Regions from separate parts of the Homo sapiens genome. Here all the other regions are reported to be linked to region 1. Evidence: microRNA targets listed by miRTarBase, many of them from high-throughput screens and not tested one by one. Region 1 holds a microRNA gene; each other region holds the end of a gene's coding sequence.
Evidence for each region. Region 1 holds the annotated microRNA hsa-miR-5579-3p (UUAGCUUAAGGAGUACCAGAUC, at 3,065-3,086, opposite strand). A microRNA usually pairs through its seed, bases 2 to 8, with sites in the 3' UTR of a target mRNA and lowers its output. Matches are read on the target gene's strand: a 7mer-m8 pairs with bases 2 to 8, a 7mer-A1 pairs with bases 2 to 7 and ends in A, and an 8mer does both.

Region 2: miRTarBase lists EPM2AIP1 as a target of hsa-miR-5579-3p. Seed matches in the 3' UTR shown: 7mer-m8 at 1,247-1,253.
Region 3: the mRNA of CLIC5 is a reported target of hsa-miR-5579-3p. Seed matches in the 3' UTR shown: 8mer at 2,276-2,283.
Region 4: the mRNA of RNF125 is a reported target of hsa-miR-5579-3p. The part of its 3' UTR that is shown has no 7-base or 8-base seed match.

The regions. Positions count from the first base shown.
Region 1 is chr11:79,419,105-79,423,271 of GRCh38, forward strand. It overlaps MIR5579 (microRNA 5579), which reads right to left and starts at 3,122; the gene lies at 3,065-3,122. All of the region lies in intron 1 of TENM4 (teneurin transmembrane protein 4), which reads right to left. RefSeq lists an enhancer at 1-639.
Region 2 is chr3:36,987,772-36,991,938 of GRCh38, forward strand. EPM2AIP1 (EPM2A interacting protein 1) reads right to left here. Exons shown (of 1, transcript NM_014805.4): 1 at 1-4,167. The coding sequence ends at 3,483. Among named protein-coding and RNA genes, the nearest start is that of EPM2AIP1, 3.3 kb to the right of the region's middle. RefSeq lists a silencer at 3,475-3,524.
Region 3 is chr6:45,899,474-45,903,640 of GRCh38, forward strand. CLIC5 (chloride intracellular channel 5) reads right to left here. Exons shown (of 6, transcript NM_016929.5): 6 at 1-3,782. The coding sequence ends at 3,615. Among named protein-coding and RNA genes, the nearest start is that of CLIC5, 110 kb to the right of the region's middle. RefSeq lists enhancers at 1,455-2,143, 1,545-2,744, 2,448-3,292.
Region 4 is chr18:32,067,868-32,072,034 of GRCh38, reverse strand. It overlaps RNF125 (ring finger protein 125), which reads right to left. Exons shown (of 6, transcript NM_017831.4): 6 at 1-3,737. The coding sequence ends at 3,651. Among named protein-coding and RNA genes, the nearest start is that of RNF138, 22 kb to the left of the region's middle.

The sequences.
Region 1 (4,167 bases):
AGGGCAGCTGAGCCATTTCCCTGCCTCCAGGACAAACTCGCATCTAAAGTGGTGAAGGAGATGAAAAGCCTACCTGGCTTTTCAAAAACACATGGAAGGATCAAAAACCACTCCCAGCAAGTCATGGCAATGTTGAATCAAGAACTGAGGGCACCTCCCTCTACCCGCTGAGTCAGTGGCCTTTGTCTGCTTTGTGACTCACCTCACTGCTTATAAACCACCAGAGCACTTGGGAACAGGGCAGTCGAGCTGTTCACACCCACAGGTAAGAGGTCAGCTCCCTTCCTCCATGTTCCCAATGGCACCCTTAGCACCCACGGCACGGGGATGGATGTGTTCCCTCCTGACTCATCAGAAGGTAACTGGGTGGCTACCTTGCTCTGTCTAGTAAGTCAGGGATGGATAGTGGATGAGATGGTTAAATTAGATTGGCAAAAAGGAAACTCACATTCTGGACTTGACAGTGTGATATGTACTTTGTATGGGCTCAAATCCCACTATGAGGCCAGTTACCAGCCATGGGTCACGTTGCTTGACATTTCCTAGTTTCATTTCCTCAGCTTTAATGAAGATAACACCCATAACCTGGTTGGTTGTAAGGAGGTAAAGAGATTAGGTCTGCTACACAGTAGGGGTGCAAAGCATGTCAGACATCATCCACATCTCCACTCCTTGGCCTGACGTCCCATGAACTGGCTTCGTGGGTTGGCACAAACTCCTTCCCTTCTCTGGGCCTTCAGTTTCCCCAGCTACCTAGGTGAGCCAAATTATTCCTTAGTTCCTTCAAGATACAAGGTGGGTGCGGGGAGGGAGTTTGAGTATGAGACTTCCTATGTGATATTTTATGTGTATGTGCATGTGTGTGTGAGTGAGAGAGAGAATGAATGAATGAGAAACCATTTATTTTAAAGTTCCCTTAATGGAATAAGACAGATTTAAATATTTTGAATCCAACCCACTGTGTTCTCTTTGTTCCATATATGTATTTTAAAAGCTTATCTTTGTCTTTTAGCTCCTTCAAGGATGCAAATCCTTCCCAATCTATGGTAAAGGTTTTCTCCCTCCTGATCATTTGAAATACATTTTTTTAACATGTTAAATCCTTACTCTTTGTATTTAAATACTTTGATGTTTTCCATAAAATAGGTTGGGAAGGGTTAGAACAAAAACGCATTTCATTTATCTGAACTACTAAGATGTCAGAAAGAGAGGCAGCTTGCAGCCTCCCAAGAGGGAAACACTCAGCCCCTGCAGGACTCTCCAAGCTTCCTGCTTGGACCATATCACTAAGACAGGAACCATAATCAGAACCCTACAGATTCAGAAATCCACAAAGTTAGCACTTCCCAAAGAGCTTCTGAAGAAACCCTACTCTTGTGAGAGTGCTAAAAATGGTTTTGCTTTAGAAAAAAGAAAACTCATATTAGAAGTTTGGGAACTCTTATGTGCTATTTATGCCTCTCTTGGAGATTCGCATAAGCATAGTGAAGACTCTGAGACTTTCTGCAGCATGAAAATACATTAACCTCTCTAATTTGGCATTTATCAAACTTATTTGGACACAAACCAGTTTTTTTTTGGGGGGTGGGGGATGGTTATTTGCTCCTATGGTGAAAAGGAAAAAAGAAAAAACTATTACCCCTCCACATGCTCACACATCCACACAATACGGAAAAAATATTTGAAACCTAGTCCCTGGAGCTGGGATGGGACAGAGGTAGGAGCAGTCACTCCAGAGTCAGATAAACCCAGGTTCAATGCTAATTCCACCAGCAGTGTAGCCTCAGGGATGATACTTCAACTTCCAGAAGTTTCCAAAGCTTTCCAAACCTTCCAAAGCTTTCACTTAGCTTTGCTGTAAGTGAAAACCAGGCTTCTAGAGTGCTTGTGTGTGCATTAGATGAGTCGAGGAGTGCACAAAGGTATCTGGTAGGGAGTATTTTTTAAATGTGTAAACTATTTTTTAAACGTGACTCTCCCTACTCTCCCTTTGCTTTTCTCTTTGCAAAATCACAAGTAGAGGCATTCGAAAGCACACTGGTCAATTTTTGCAATGCTTATAAAGCTTTAAATCAAATTATTTCACATAAGAGGCTATCTTGGAATATCATTCCATTACCTTGTCTATATGTTTTCATAAATAAAGTCACCCCCCCTCAAAAAAAAGGTAGGGCCACTTTCATCCATATGTATGTGAAGGAGAACCTAGTATTTCATACAGCTATCTGAAATTTAATATCAAGGAATTTACCTGTGTCAAATATTACTTTATTTAACAGAATGTGATATCGCTTGATATAGTCATAAAGTGCATTCCTATCAAAATACAGCTGTTATTAACATTACTAACAACTGCTTTACCCCAGTGATTTTTATTGAAACTATAACGATGGGCACTTTTGAAATAAGTGTTCCTAGCTAATTTGCAGAGGGCTATCTCCCAGAGAGAGTTCATATTATAATTCTAACGGGGTTTTCACACAAGGTAGAATGAGGAGTTTAAAATGCTTGAAAGAGAGTCATCTCGAGGTCACCAATAATTAAATAGGAGCTAAAGGAACGGAACAAGGAAAATGTGTAATCTTCCCTGGCTCTGAAATTAAAAAAAAAAAAAAACAGTTATCAGCAAGACAGTGCTTCTGCAGGGAGGCTGATCTCGATCTACAGTAGGATTCCTTTCAAACCAGGATGTCTATTTCAAAATGCCCATTAAAAGTCTATGATGGACTTTAATTATGAGAGGCAGCAGATAAGAGTCCAGTTCATTCCCTCCTGTTGTCGGGGTGGTTTAGAGCTGCCAATCATCACCCCCTTCAATGAGGCCCAAGGTGCAGATACCCCTTTCAAGAGGCTGGCTAGACTGTGAGGGAAGGGCTCTTAACGCACACCCCACACGTGGCGCCTGTGAAGTGCAATGAAGGGACCTCCTGCTAGGGCTGCAACAATCTTCCCATTCCCCCAGGATGCAATAACCAAGGGAACCACATCCCTGCTTCTCAGTGCTCAACCTTCTGAGGCTCATCTTCTCAACTCTGTTCACCTCCACAGTGTTTGTGGGTGATTTGATCTGGTACTCCTTAAGCTAATGGTGACAGGGGCCTGTTAGCTTAAGGAGTACCATATTAAATCACCCACATGGTTCTTACACACACACACACACACACACACACACACACACAGAGTAAAGGACAGAGCAGCAGCAGTCCAGCTCAGTAGAAGCAGCACCAGCTCTACAGTAAGAAAGACCAGAGTTTGAATCCTGATTCCTTCACTTCCTGCTGTGTGGTCTTGGGCAATTTACTTACCATCTCTTTTTGTAACATGGAGACTAGATACCTGTCATCTATAATACCTGTCACCTATGTTTAATATGGGGCCCCTAATTCATAATAGGATACCTAAGAATGTCATTCCCCAAAAAAAGCAGAGGCCCTGCAGTCAATGTTTGTCTGCCTCCATGAGTGCCTAAAAAACAACTCCCTCCACCCCAAGAGAGAAACTCGCTGGAGAGGCCAGCTGAGAAAGAAAAATGTTAAATAATTCAGAAGCACTAACATCAAGTCTGAGGTAGGTATAAAAATAGTTACAAAACACCACACTCCTCTTGTTTTCCTTACAGCAACCTTGGCTCCCTGGTAGAACAGAGGGAGGGAGGGTCTGACCCAAGGCTGGTTCTGGGCCTGGGGCAGGGACTGTGGCCCAGGAGCCTCTCTGGGCTTCTATTTTGGCTCTTCTAATCACTCCTCTTTGTACAAAGGTAAGGCAGGCATTTGCTTGTCACCTCTACATTTTAAAACAGCCTTCTGATAGGCCGACTTATTTTTAAACTGAAAGTATGCTCAGCTGGGCCATTTGAATCAGAGGGAATTCTTTGCATCCTGTCTTCTAAAGTAGACCAACTGGTGAGCCTTCCAAGGATGCCGGACCCAATCCCAAAGCTTAAGTTAAAAGGAGAAGGCTGGGAGGCTGTCCTAAACCCAATCCCCCAAGGAGTCCCATGCCATTGGCCTGTGTCATCCAGAAAGACTATGCTGTCCCTAAAAGCACAGATACTGGGAAGAGAACAGGAAGATTCCAACTGGAGAGGTAACATTGACTAAGCACCTACCATGTGCCAGGCACCCTGCCAGATCCTTTACCTATATTATCTCCTGAAGCCCTCACAAT
Region 2 (4,167 bases), not on the chromosome of region 1:
AAAGTTACCCAATGGACAGTCTAAGGCAGAATGACTGTGAAGGTCAAATAAGACTGTGAAAGAGCTTCAAAAATTGTAAAACACTACACAAATATTCGTTTGTCCAAACATTTATTGAAATGCCAGGCATTGTGCTAAGCACTAGAGATATAACAGTGAACAAGGCTTATATGGTCCCTGCCCTTACAAAGCTTACAGTCTAGCAGTGATCAATAAGCAGTAACAATAAAGTGTGCCAAGTGTATGTCTGGGAAAGAACAGGGTGTATAGGGAATGGATAGTAAGGGCACCTAATCTAGAGGGCATCAATGAAGGTTTCCTAGATGAAGTGGCATACTGAGACCTTAAAGATGAAGATAAATTTGTATTGTACCCTAAGAGCAATGGTGAAAGCAATGCAGTGACATGATCAGTAAGTCTTTTGGAGCAATTTGGTTGTAGTGTAGAAAGGAATAAAAATAAAAAACAGGGAGACTAATAAGGAGGCTGTTGCTATAATTTAGGTAGGTTGATGGCCTGAATTAAAATGGCAGCATTGGAGAATTGGTAAAAAGGACAAATGAATGGTTGGTAGTGGTAATGCCATTTAGTCAAAGAGGAAACATGAGAGGAGGAGCAGGATTGGGGGCAAGATCAATGACATGTAGTGCCTGAGACAGCAAAGAGCATTTGTTAGCAATTAGATACATCAATTAGGGAAGATCTAGAAAGGAGATATGAATCTGACAGTCATTTGCATATAAATGGTAAGGAAACCATGGAAGGAAATGAGATCAGCTAGCGAGCTGACACAGAACAAGGCAGTCTAAAACAAATTTTTTTAAAAATACGAAGAACAGATATTGAAGGGAAGAGGTGCCTGCAAAGACTAAGAAAGCACACCTGGAGATGGTATCTCCTCAAAGCTAAAGTCATCAAGTGTTCAAGTGTTTCAAGGAGGGTAAGACTATTAACAAGGACTTAGCATAGTAGAGCAATTTGAGTGGCAATACGGGACACTGGGAATACAAATCTGTCAAGAAAACTAGTAGGAATGAGCTATAGGACAGTAACTGGTAAGGACCTAATAATTTTTTTTTTAATGTACGTATTTTAACTATATTCACTGCTACAACAGGACCAGTAACAACTATATTTATTTAAAAAAAAAAAGACTGCCATGCAGTTACAGAATTACTTAATACAGAAAACAGTAAAATACACTTTTTTCTTTTTCTTTTTTTTTTTTTTTTTTTACAAACAAGACTAGCTTATAGCAAATTCTCTATAGCTAAGGGTCAATTTAAAATCCTTGGCTTATATCTCCCCCTCACTCAATGACTACATGATGCAAACTAATTTTATTAACACCTTAAGCAAAACATACTGGAATTTCACAAAATGTACAAGATTTCAATATTTAAGGAACTGGGGTTAGAAAGCAGAAGTGGCTTTCAGGTCTTCCAGTCTTTCTCTCAAGTAATAAAGCTCTGCTGTGAATATTCAAAGCTATTGGGAAATTACCGGTAGATTTTTCTGTTTTTTTTTTTCGGTTTTCCACTATGTTGTTTCTCTAGATATGTAAGCTTACTCTATTAACCAAAATCTCAGCTTGACCATTCTTGATAAGTACCTAATCGACATGTAACTTTTTTTCTGCCTTAAATATGTATAACAGGACAGAGCCCTTAAATCTGATTCAATTATTAATTCCTGATTTACAAGTGCTATGGTGAGCTAACAGAACTTATCAATGCCTTTATTGCACTTTACTAGCCAAATTTAGAAGGTTGGAATTAGTCTCTCCTATCTAGTATTCTGTCAGTTTGCCCAGCTTGTACTTTTAATTTTGCTTCTAATGGTAATCTGCCCTATCCCTTGAAATAAAATAATCTACATTTTGGGAGGGCTAATTCTTCATTGTGCCAGGCTGTCCCATGCACTGCAGGGGTGAGTGTCTTTAGGCTTAAATGCCAACAGAAGCCCCTAGTAAATATGACAACCAAAAAAGTGCCCCTACACATTTCTCAGCATCCTCTGGAATGACAGGTTACTGCCTCTAGTTGAAAGCCACTGGCACAACTTTGGTTTTTAAGCTCTTATGCCATTTATTTTAATTGCCCAGACATCAATTCCACCTAAATTCTTAGTCATAGCCTGGTTCCTTGAATTTGCTGGATTAGTAACCACAGATTAAGGTGTTTCAATAGTTAAGACAGGACTTTGGAACAAGAGTTTTTAAATTGTATAATACTTGAGAGGATCTATGAATATAAATTGGGTCCTGTTTATAATTAGTTTTACATAATGAACTTTAAGATTGCCTTTTCATGGTGAACAGAAGTTTGGAAATTACTGTTTTGGCACAAAGCAGATTATCTTAGTAGAAATACAGAATTACTGCAATCTGTGAATAAGACTGCTTTTAAATATTTCTACTTGTGTGCTATCTTACATATAGAATGTGTACGACAGTTCCAAATTTTAGAATAAATCCATTTCTAGCATCTAACAAAATCTGATACTGTATCATTTTAAAACAAAGTGTTTACTTTAGGCAGGATTTTTTAAAATAAAGCAGCAATACCCACGCAGATAAGACAAAAAAGCTAAAATATCTCACACCTCCTAATCCTGGAGTGCAATCTTTTTTCCTCATCGTTTTTGATAGGGCCAAACTTGTGTCTACAGTAAAAAAAAAAAAAAAAAGAATTACTAACTGGCAACCATTAAGATTCTATACTTACCATAGTCCTTTAATAGGCAAGCTGATAAAATAGCCCCCAGTTATTAAAAAAAAAATCCAAGGAAAACCCCCAATAATTAGTCTTATCTCCAAATTGCATGAAGTCTCCTATATCTGAAACTTAAAAATGATTCTAATGACTTCCTCTATCAGTAATGTGTTATCACTGAGGTGGGTGATGGGGAGGGAAGAGGGAAGAAATCTGTCAGTATTACCTTCGAACTCAGAAATGTTTAAAAAAAAGTCTCAAACATTTTGATGGTTAGACAAAACACCTCCACTGTTATGTATGGGCTTCCTTTTTGGAAACTTATGAACTTGCTATGTGAGCTTCTGCAAATTGGTTCAAAAGCACATTTAAGGAGTTGATAATTTAAGACTATATGAATCAGAATTTTAACACTCCATTAAAATAAGAGCTGAAATTTTTGGCATTTATCTTCAGAACACCTAAAAAACAGACTGCAAATTCAACTCACATTAATACTAAATCTCTTTAAAATTAACTATATCATAAAAGACAATGACTTTGTCACTAAACTAAGTTTTAAAAAAGGTGGCATTCTCATGTTTCAGTCCCATGCTGCCATTTGAGATGAAAAAAAAGGCAACTGTCAGAATTTTAATTGTGATCAGTTTGGACGGCTGGTACTTGGTACTTTCTCACAATCCAAATTAGTAAACTTGAAAACTCAAACCAATTTTTGCTTTTAGAATTAAATTCTTGTTGAGTTTTTCAATCTTGTACTACAAAGCCTTATGGATTAGATTCATTTCTTTCTCTCACAAGGTCATCCCAACCGGGCTCCATTTCAGTTGTGGCAACCCGAAACAGGGCTTGGAGATGCTCATCTGTTAATGGCTGACTCAAAGTGTGTTGGTTTCGAGTCAAATATGAAAAAGCCTTTTCACAGATTTGGTTACTATCAAACAAGGATGCCACCTTACAGGCAACCCCTTTGATAATTGGGTAGGATTCAGCAGACAATCCAGCATAAAACTGCCCCAAGTCTTTGATTCTGTATTCATTCCAAAGATTAGTGTTTGCCTGAAGTTTTGTTAGCTCCACCCTCACTGAAATAGGTGCATATTCAGGTTTAAAGTTAAATGGATTTGAAAAAAGTTCTAAGTCCTTTTTAATGAACCTGAGGTCCTTAAAATGTCTCTCAAATTCTTTTTGGAGACGACAGATCACCATTTGATACCTATCAGGATCAAATATTTTTTCATCTTCCTTATTTTGCTGTTTTAGCTCATCAACAACTTCTCTGAGGGCAGGAAAGTCTGTTAGATTTTTTTCCTCAATATGTCTTTGAAATAAATTCAGCTTAACTTCGAAAGTACAAATATGGTCAAAGGCAGCAGCAGCAAAGACTTTACTAACTCGTAATTCTTCACTGAGTTCTCGAAGGTGTTCCATAATGTCCACCAAGAAGCCAAAG
Region 3 (4,167 bases), not on the chromosome of region 1:
TAATTTAATTTTAGACACACACTCTCACAGTGATGCTAAACTCTTTACAAGATAGACCCGCAGCTTCCTGCCTCTGCCTCTCTCTTAGTTCTATTTGTCCAGGCCTTGCTGATTTCTGGGACTCTCATATGGTCAAGATCTATTTCAGGCATGACCTATCTTATGACAGTTCTAAGATGCTTGGTATTGTCTGTCTGTGGAGTGGCCATGGGGCACAGAACTGTGAAGAGCTTCTGTTGTTTCATTTGATAAGGGCCTGGAAAGTCAGCCTGGGAAAACTCGCACTTGGTGTGGCCTTTTTCTGATAAGATCAAGACTTCACTGGCCCCACCAGCACAAGAAGGGAATGCTGAGGACAGGGCCATTTCCCAAGATAAAACTAGTTTGGGATCGTGTGGCCAAATAAGCTGATGGACTCTGTTTCCGACATTTCAGCTCATTTGCTTAGTGCTAGGTCACTCTACCTCTCGTTTAAAAGAATATAGCTATGCTCACATCTGTGACTCTGAATTTATCAAGCATTTGACTTTCTTTATCAGGAGATGAAGAAACTGTGCTTTGGATCCATCATGATTTTACTTATCCAGCTTACTTTTTACAGTTATTAAAATCTTACTCAATACCTTCTCTCTGGGCCAAACTCAGAAGCAGGCATTGCTGACTAGACAGTGAATTCAACTCAGTCATTCTGAGTTTGACTCTTGCTTCTGCCTTCGTCTCCCACTACCCTGCTTCCCCCACCCCCAATAGTGCTGTGCAAGTCAAAGAAGATAAATAAATACAAAATAAAATAAGATCTCAACACAAATACATCCCCTTTCTGTGCCACCAAAATGCTTTCTGAGCGATTTGTATTCATTCAGGACCAATGAAAAGGAAGCCTCCTACCCTATAGCTGTATAGTTGTGGGGTCCCAACTGCAGACCCTCCCGTGCTCCCTGAGTTGTTCTTGGGACACCTAAGGACCTCACCACACTGTTGCTGAGACATGATGTGCTGCACATATGATAAGAAGGCCAGACAGGCTGAAGCATCTGGAGAAAGATCTCTTTTGAAACAAAAAAAAAAAGGAAGGTAATATTAATATTATTGTTACTTTAATATACCATAATAAATCTAGTCATAAGACACCATAACTAACTCTTAGTCCATAGTCACTTGCATTATATGATAATCCAGTGCTGAAATATAAAGAAATTTCTGAATTAAGTACCCAGAAGTGCCTTCCTTCTGTACTCCTCCCTCTCTTTCAAATGGCTATCATTGATCATATAACACCCCCACCTCCTTGTCTTAATATATTTATCTCTGTAAAACTAGCTCAACCACAGAAGGGACATCTAGAAACAGCAATATTGATTTGGTTTGGCCTGTTTGTTTTTAAGGACTTTCCAGTTGCTGAATTCTGAACATCCAATCCGAGTCCTTGGAATTCTGCAGACTTCTCTGGGGTGGAGTGGCCTCACCGGAGGCTTGGTTCTGTTTTCTCTGTGGCAATTGGCTATGATTCACAGATGTGTTTCCAGAACAGCCCAACTGTGGGTCTCAGGGAAGTAAACTGCCTCTTAGGTCATCCTGCCTGTGCTGTAAATTCGGGGAAGGATTTCTGAGTACAGCAGGATTTCACACTAATTAAAAGGCCTTCGGGATCATTTCAGCCCTCATCCCCCAGGAGGCCAGTTTGGGGCTTTTCCCTACAGTAAAAAAGGACTCTTTCCTCACCAGTTCTCCTTGTTAAACATCTCCAGGGCACAATTTCCAGGGGGACCTGGAAAGGTTCCTTTTGAGGTGGAAATGAATCAACTCATTCCGCCTTTTCAAAGCTTTCTCAGGCTTATAAAGTGTCCTACTGAGAAAGTTCCTCTTCCTCAATGGGCTCTAGGAGACCTCCTGCTTCCTCTCCTCTGATTTGATCAATGGGTTACTTTTTTTCTTCAGAGATCCCTGGAGGCAGGTAGGTCCAGGGATTGCTTGGGTTAGAATTTGTTGATATTTCTATGGAAAGGACCCGTGCTATCCTGCCCTTGCTGAGAAATGAGCCAAGTCCAGGGGCTTTCCAGCACTTGGGAGCCTCACCCTTTACCAGCGAACACTATAGAAGGGGGATTGTTGAAGGTAAGGGCCTGTGGCAAATGGATTTTCTCACCGGGCGTTCACTGGGAGAAGGAGTTGATGAGTGCATTTTTCTTAGTTTCCTCTGCACAGGTCCCCAAGCTCAGGCTGGGTAAGCTTTTTAGGAGATGAAACTTAAGGAGAATGACAAAAGAGTGAAATATTAGCTTAAAAATTTTTCCTTTTTTTTTTCACCTGGCAGTTGAGTCAGATTGTAGGAAAATTAACCCAGATGGGTCTACATTTTTCTTCAAGTTCAAACCACATGGTTTCCTAGTCAGAAAGTCTCATGGACTTTCTTCCTAAGGTGTTCTATGATCAGACCACCTCCTAAATGTGGCTTTTACCCATTACAGGCTACAGTTGAATCAGGCAGGAGCAGCTGCTGGAGAGCACCCAGCCGACAGACCTGCATTCCAGAAGCAGCTTGGAGAAACTGGGAAGACATTTTTGACCCATTCTTGGGTTTTTACTGTAAGGTTAGCAGTTACATGATGCCACCAGTCCAAGACTTAGATCATGAGAGAAGGCCTTTTTAAAAGTTTACCAGGGAACATCGAGGCTCATAAAGAACTCTTTTGTCTTCACCCATCTCTCCTCCTCCCACTCCCATCCACTTTCTCATAGCTCAAAAACCACTCATTGGTAAGCACAGTCAAACCCAGGCCTGTAATCACCTCTGAAACAACTACTCCTAAGCAAGCAAACCCCATGGCTGGTAGACCCCGTGGGTATTTTGGCATCAACACTGCTCCCCTCCCCTCCCATCCCAGTCACTGCAGTTTAGAATTGCATGCCAATTTCCTTTTCTGGCAGGGCCTGGACGGCATGGAAGCCAGGGACAGCATGGGCCAGGTGCGCAGCAGCAGCAGCGCAGCATTCCTGGCACTGCAACAAACTGAGAATGTGTCTCAAGTGACTTTCCAGTCTGGCCCTTAGTGCCCAATAACCAGAGTGTCAGAAGTAGTGAGACTGAAGCTGTGTTTGCCAGACACCCAAGTCCATAGCCAGCTCGGTACTCCTCCATTCACTCTCTCTGTCTCCCCTAATGGGGTAATAGATCTCTTTCTAAGAAGGATGAAGATGGCGTTTGTCCTTGGCCTTGTAGGTATGGACGGAGAGGAGGGTAGAAAAGGAGTTGGTGTTGCATGTTTCTAAAGCATCTGAGAAGGTATTTTGATATTGGCAGAAGAAGCTAGTGGCAATCCCATATGTGGGCTCTCCAACACTGACTGACCCCAAACATGCTGAGCCCAGATCAGGCTGGCCGGCCGAAAGGTGGACTGTGTCTATCATTTCTGCTAGATTCCTATGTGAGGAGGCCAGGGATGGTGCTGACCTTCATGAAAGATAGCAGGCTGGAGTTCCCATGATACCAGCAAGATGAGGCTTGATTATAAAAAGTGCGCCTCAAGGCAGTGATACAGAGGAGTCTATGAAGCTGGAGTCTTAGGGGAGTGGTTGAGTCCTTCTGCAGCGGGGATGGGGCAAAATGGCTGTGCTCAGGATCGGCTGAGGCGTTTGGCGACATCAGCGTAGGCCAACTCGATCTCACTGTCAGCTGCACAGGTGTTGGTGAACTCATCACGGGCATAGGCGTTCTTGAGGTACCGCCACAGGCCTGTCATCTCAGCCGGGATATCATAGTTGCGGTATTTCTTGGCCACAATCTAAAACAGAGATGGCAGGACAGAGGTGGTGTGAAGGCATGAAACAAATCATTAGAAAGTGTTAGTGGCCGTCCCAGTGTGTGTGCACTGCAGGAAACCTCCGTGCATCACCACGGGCCATCAGTGATATGTTTGAAATGCAAGGTGGCAGTGCTGTCTTCTTTTTGTTTTGTTTTAATTTAATTTCTTAAGTAAACATAATTTGCCCTTTGACCTAGTGTGTCAAATTCTAGGAATTTTTTCTCAGGAAATAATCATGGATGGATATAAAGATTTACCTACACAATTATGATCCCAGAGCTATTTTGAATAACAAAAATGGTGCACAGCGCCAAAGTCCAACAATATATGAATACATACATTATCTTACACAAATAAAATGTCA
Region 4 (4,167 bases), not on the chromosome of region 1:
TTTTGTTTTTGTTTAAATAGAAAGAGTCTCACTATATTGCCCAGGTTGGTCTTGAACTCCTGGGCTCATGAGACCCTCCACCTCAGCCTCCCAAAGTGCTGGGATTATAGGTGTGAGCCACTGTAACCAGCCAGATTTTGCTTTATTGTATGATCCATCTAAATTGAAGAAAGAGAGGTTGTGGAACTAAAAATCAGTTGTTACTTTTTAGCAGCTGTGAAAAGCAAACTTAAAATCAATATCTAAAAGGGAGGATATGAGGCTCACTAGATTTCATTCAGCTTTACATTTTCCCAATTATTTGTACTGGATAAAAGAACTGTAGCAAGACCTTTAAGGAGTTACAATAACTTATAGAAAATTTTGGGTACCATGGTTATGACTATGCTTATATGTAAGGAACAAAGAAGTTTATAAATGATTACAATTAAAAAGCTAACTCTAGTCAAGTAACGTTTTATCCTCAGGAGTTGATATTACTTATTTTCATGGCTTCTTTGCATCCTTACAAGATGGAGATACTAATCTATGCCCTGGATTCATAATTAAAGAGTCAGATATGAGAAACAGTCAGAGCCATCAAATAAAAACTGGGGGCAATTGCCTGGCGCGGTGGCACACACCTGTAATCCCAGTACTTTAGGAGGCCAACACAGGTGGATCACTTGAGGTCAGGAGTTCAAAACCAGCCTGGCCAACATGGCAAAACCCATCTCTACTAAAAATACAACAATTAGCCGGGTGTGGTGGTGCCCACTTGTAATCCCAGCTACTCGAGAGGCTGAGGCAGGAGAATCACTTGAACCCGGGAGGCGGAGGTTGCAGTGAGCCAAGATCACACCACTGCACTCCAGCCTGGGCAACAGAGCAAGATTCCTCCTCAAAACAAAACAAAACAAAACTGGGGGCAAGTGTTAAATATATAGTTGAAGAACTAAGAATAAATGGGGGATAAAAGGAAGAAAGTACAGTATGCTATACCAGTATGTTCTGAAAATGTTGACATAGTATAACTATTTTAAAAATTGGGATGTCGGGCGCAGTGGCTCACACCTGTAATCCCAGCACTTTGGGAGGCCGAGGCAGGCGGATCACCTGAGGTCGAGAGTTTGAGGCCAGCCTGACCAATGTGGAGAAATCCTGACTCTACTAAAAATACAAAATTAGCAGGGCGTGGTGGCGCATGCCTATAATCCCAGCTACTCGGGAAGCTGAGGCAGGAGAATTGCTTGAATCCAGGAGGCAGAGGTTGCAGTGAGCCGAGATCGTGCCATTGCACTCCAGCCTGGGCAACAAGAGCGCGAGACTCCATCTCAAAAAAAAAAAAAAATTGGGAAAGAATGAGAAAAGCAAATGAAAACTTTTTAATTGTTTCAATTGCCATATTATTTGTGGTTGTATTTCTATTGTTATTCTGAGACAGCTGTAAGTGTAAGATAAATAAAAGAAATGAGTAATTGTGGGATGTTCTAATTCTATCGTGCCCTGTGTTCTTGAAAACCAGGACTTTCAGTACAGAAGGAGAGGTACAGTTGTAACAGAAAGGTTAGATAAAAACCCTGTAGGCCGGGCACAGTGGCTCACGCCTATAATCCCAGCACTTTGGAAGGCTGAGGTGGGCGGATCACAAGGTAAGGAGTTTGAGACCAGCCTGGCTATTATGGTGAAACCCTGTCTCTACTAAAAATACAAAAATTAGCTGGGCATGGTGGCTCATGCCTGTAATCCCAGCATTTTGGGAGGCCAAGGCTGGTGGATCACTTGAGTTCAGGAGTTCAAGACCAGCCTGACCATTATGGTGAAACCCCTCTACTAAAAATACAAAAATTAGCCGGGCATGGTGGCGTGCACCTGTAGTCCCAGCTACTTGGGAGGCTGAAACAGGAGAACTGCTTGAACCCGGGAGATGGAGGTTGCAGTGAGTCGAGATCGTGCCACTGTACTCCAGCCTGGGCAACAGAGTGCAACTCTGAAAAAAAGAGAAAGAAAAGGAAAGAGAGAGAGAGAGAGAGAGAGAAGAAGGAGGAAGGAAAGAAAGACACCGTGATTTACAGTCTTGCCAAAGGACTGAACCTAAGTCTTCTCAAATTCAATGTGCCTGAACCTGCACTGTGTGCTAATATCGAGAGGACAGGGCAATGTGCTGAACCGTGCCATGAGTGTGCAATCAGCAAAATACAAAGTATGGGAAACTCTATAGGTCCTAGGATCAGGTTCTTCACCAGGTAAATTTTAAGGAACTGGAAAGAAGGAGGAACTTCTAGATTAAAAAAGAGATGTAAAATAAAATATACATTTAATAACAACTTTAAATTGATAATATTAAAATATAGATATATGCATTTAGGTGTGGCAGCAGTAATCAAATGCAACAAAGTGATTACCATTTAAATCAGTCTAGCAGTTACTTTTGTGGGGTTGTAATTGTGACAGGACACAAAAAGGACACGTGGGGTGACTGGCTGAGTCCTAAAAGAGTATTTCCTTATAATAAGGCATTCAGCTATAAATTTTGTGTCTGGTTTTCAGTACTTTTATTTCATAATTTTTAAAATGTTACAATCAAAAAAGATATCAAAGCCCTTAGGGTTTTCTACTAAAAAGTCTGGATGTGAATACTTATACTGTAAGTATCATCTGATGGTTTTTAAGAAATTGCTTATATTATAGAAATATTTCTAAATAAGCTATAAATATTTGAAAAATATTGAATTCTTATGTATGCAGTTATAAAAAGTCAAAGAATTAAGTATACTTTTCTAACACAAAATTTGTTTTGTTACAGTATTATGTAAGACAATTTGGTTAAATGGATTTTTTTTTTTTTTTTTTTTGAGATGGAGTCTAGCTCTGTTACCCAGGCTGGAGTGTACTGGTGCGATCTCAGCTCACTGTAACCTCTGCCTCCCGGGTTCAAGTGATTCTTCTGCCTCAGCCTCCCAAGTAGCTGGTATTACAGATGCCCGCCAACACGTCCAGCTAATTTTTGTATTTTTAGTAGAGACGGAGTTTCACAGAGACCAGTGTTGGCCAGGCTGGTCTCGAACTCCTGACCTTGTGATCCGCCTGCTTCAGCCTCCCAAAGTGCTGGGATTACAAGCGTAAGCCACCGCGTCCGGCCTAAATGGACTTTCTTGACTTCCAAAATTTTCCTTTCCAACTCCCATACAAGATTATTAACGTTAACCTATTAGAGATTAGAACAAGAGCATTGGAGCAGATTTCTTATTTCTTTGAATGTCTGCACTTTGTTTCACTCTCCATATTTTTTTACACAGAACAAAGATTAGTTATCGTGCCTAACCATGATGGTAGTTATTGATATGTAGCATTATACACAGAGTATTATCTAATTTGCAAACCGAGATCCTCCACCTACTTGCCTACCACCTGTCTTTTCCATGTAACAATGACTGATGTAGATAATTTTTTTTGTTGTTAGATGTGTAAGAATCTCAAGGATGTAAAACAGATTTAAACCATTAAAATTAAAGCAGTTTTTAAATGCACTATAACAATAAACATGGACAAACACATAACTGTGTTGTACATTTTTGCCCATCAATCATTGACAACTTCCCTCCCATTTGTTCAAGCAGCATCTTAAATGGTGCAATTCAGTGGTCCCTTTTCCCTTCGTTTTAATAAAATTATGTGGTGTTCGAGTGATTCACATATTCAAGAAGTGACCGGTCTAAGACTCTTCGGATAAGAGCTTCCTCAATTATATTAAAATCCTACAATAAAGAAAAATAATTAGAAATATTCAGAGTCAATAGTATTTCAGAAACTAGAGGATGAGGGTCAATGCAACACCCTCATTTTGTAGGGAACTAAAGTTACGAGACTTGTCCAAGGTTCCACAAAGCCTGTCATAGAACCCAGGACTTTTGCTTTGGGGCTAATGAATTTTCTACTTCACTTTGTTGTCTATCGATTAACTAGTTACTGTCATAATAAACAGTCTTGATTTGAAATTTGAAGTTTTTATCTGATATAATGAGAAGTTTTTAGTCACCATTACAAATCCTGGTCAGAGTGCTATGTTCCACATAAACCTGTAAAATGGAGCAAAGTTCAGGCTCCCCCACAGGCTTCACCAATGCCAGCAGTACCACTGAATGGCTACTTCTGAAGAAAATGTTAAAAACAAAACTTTCTCCTTGC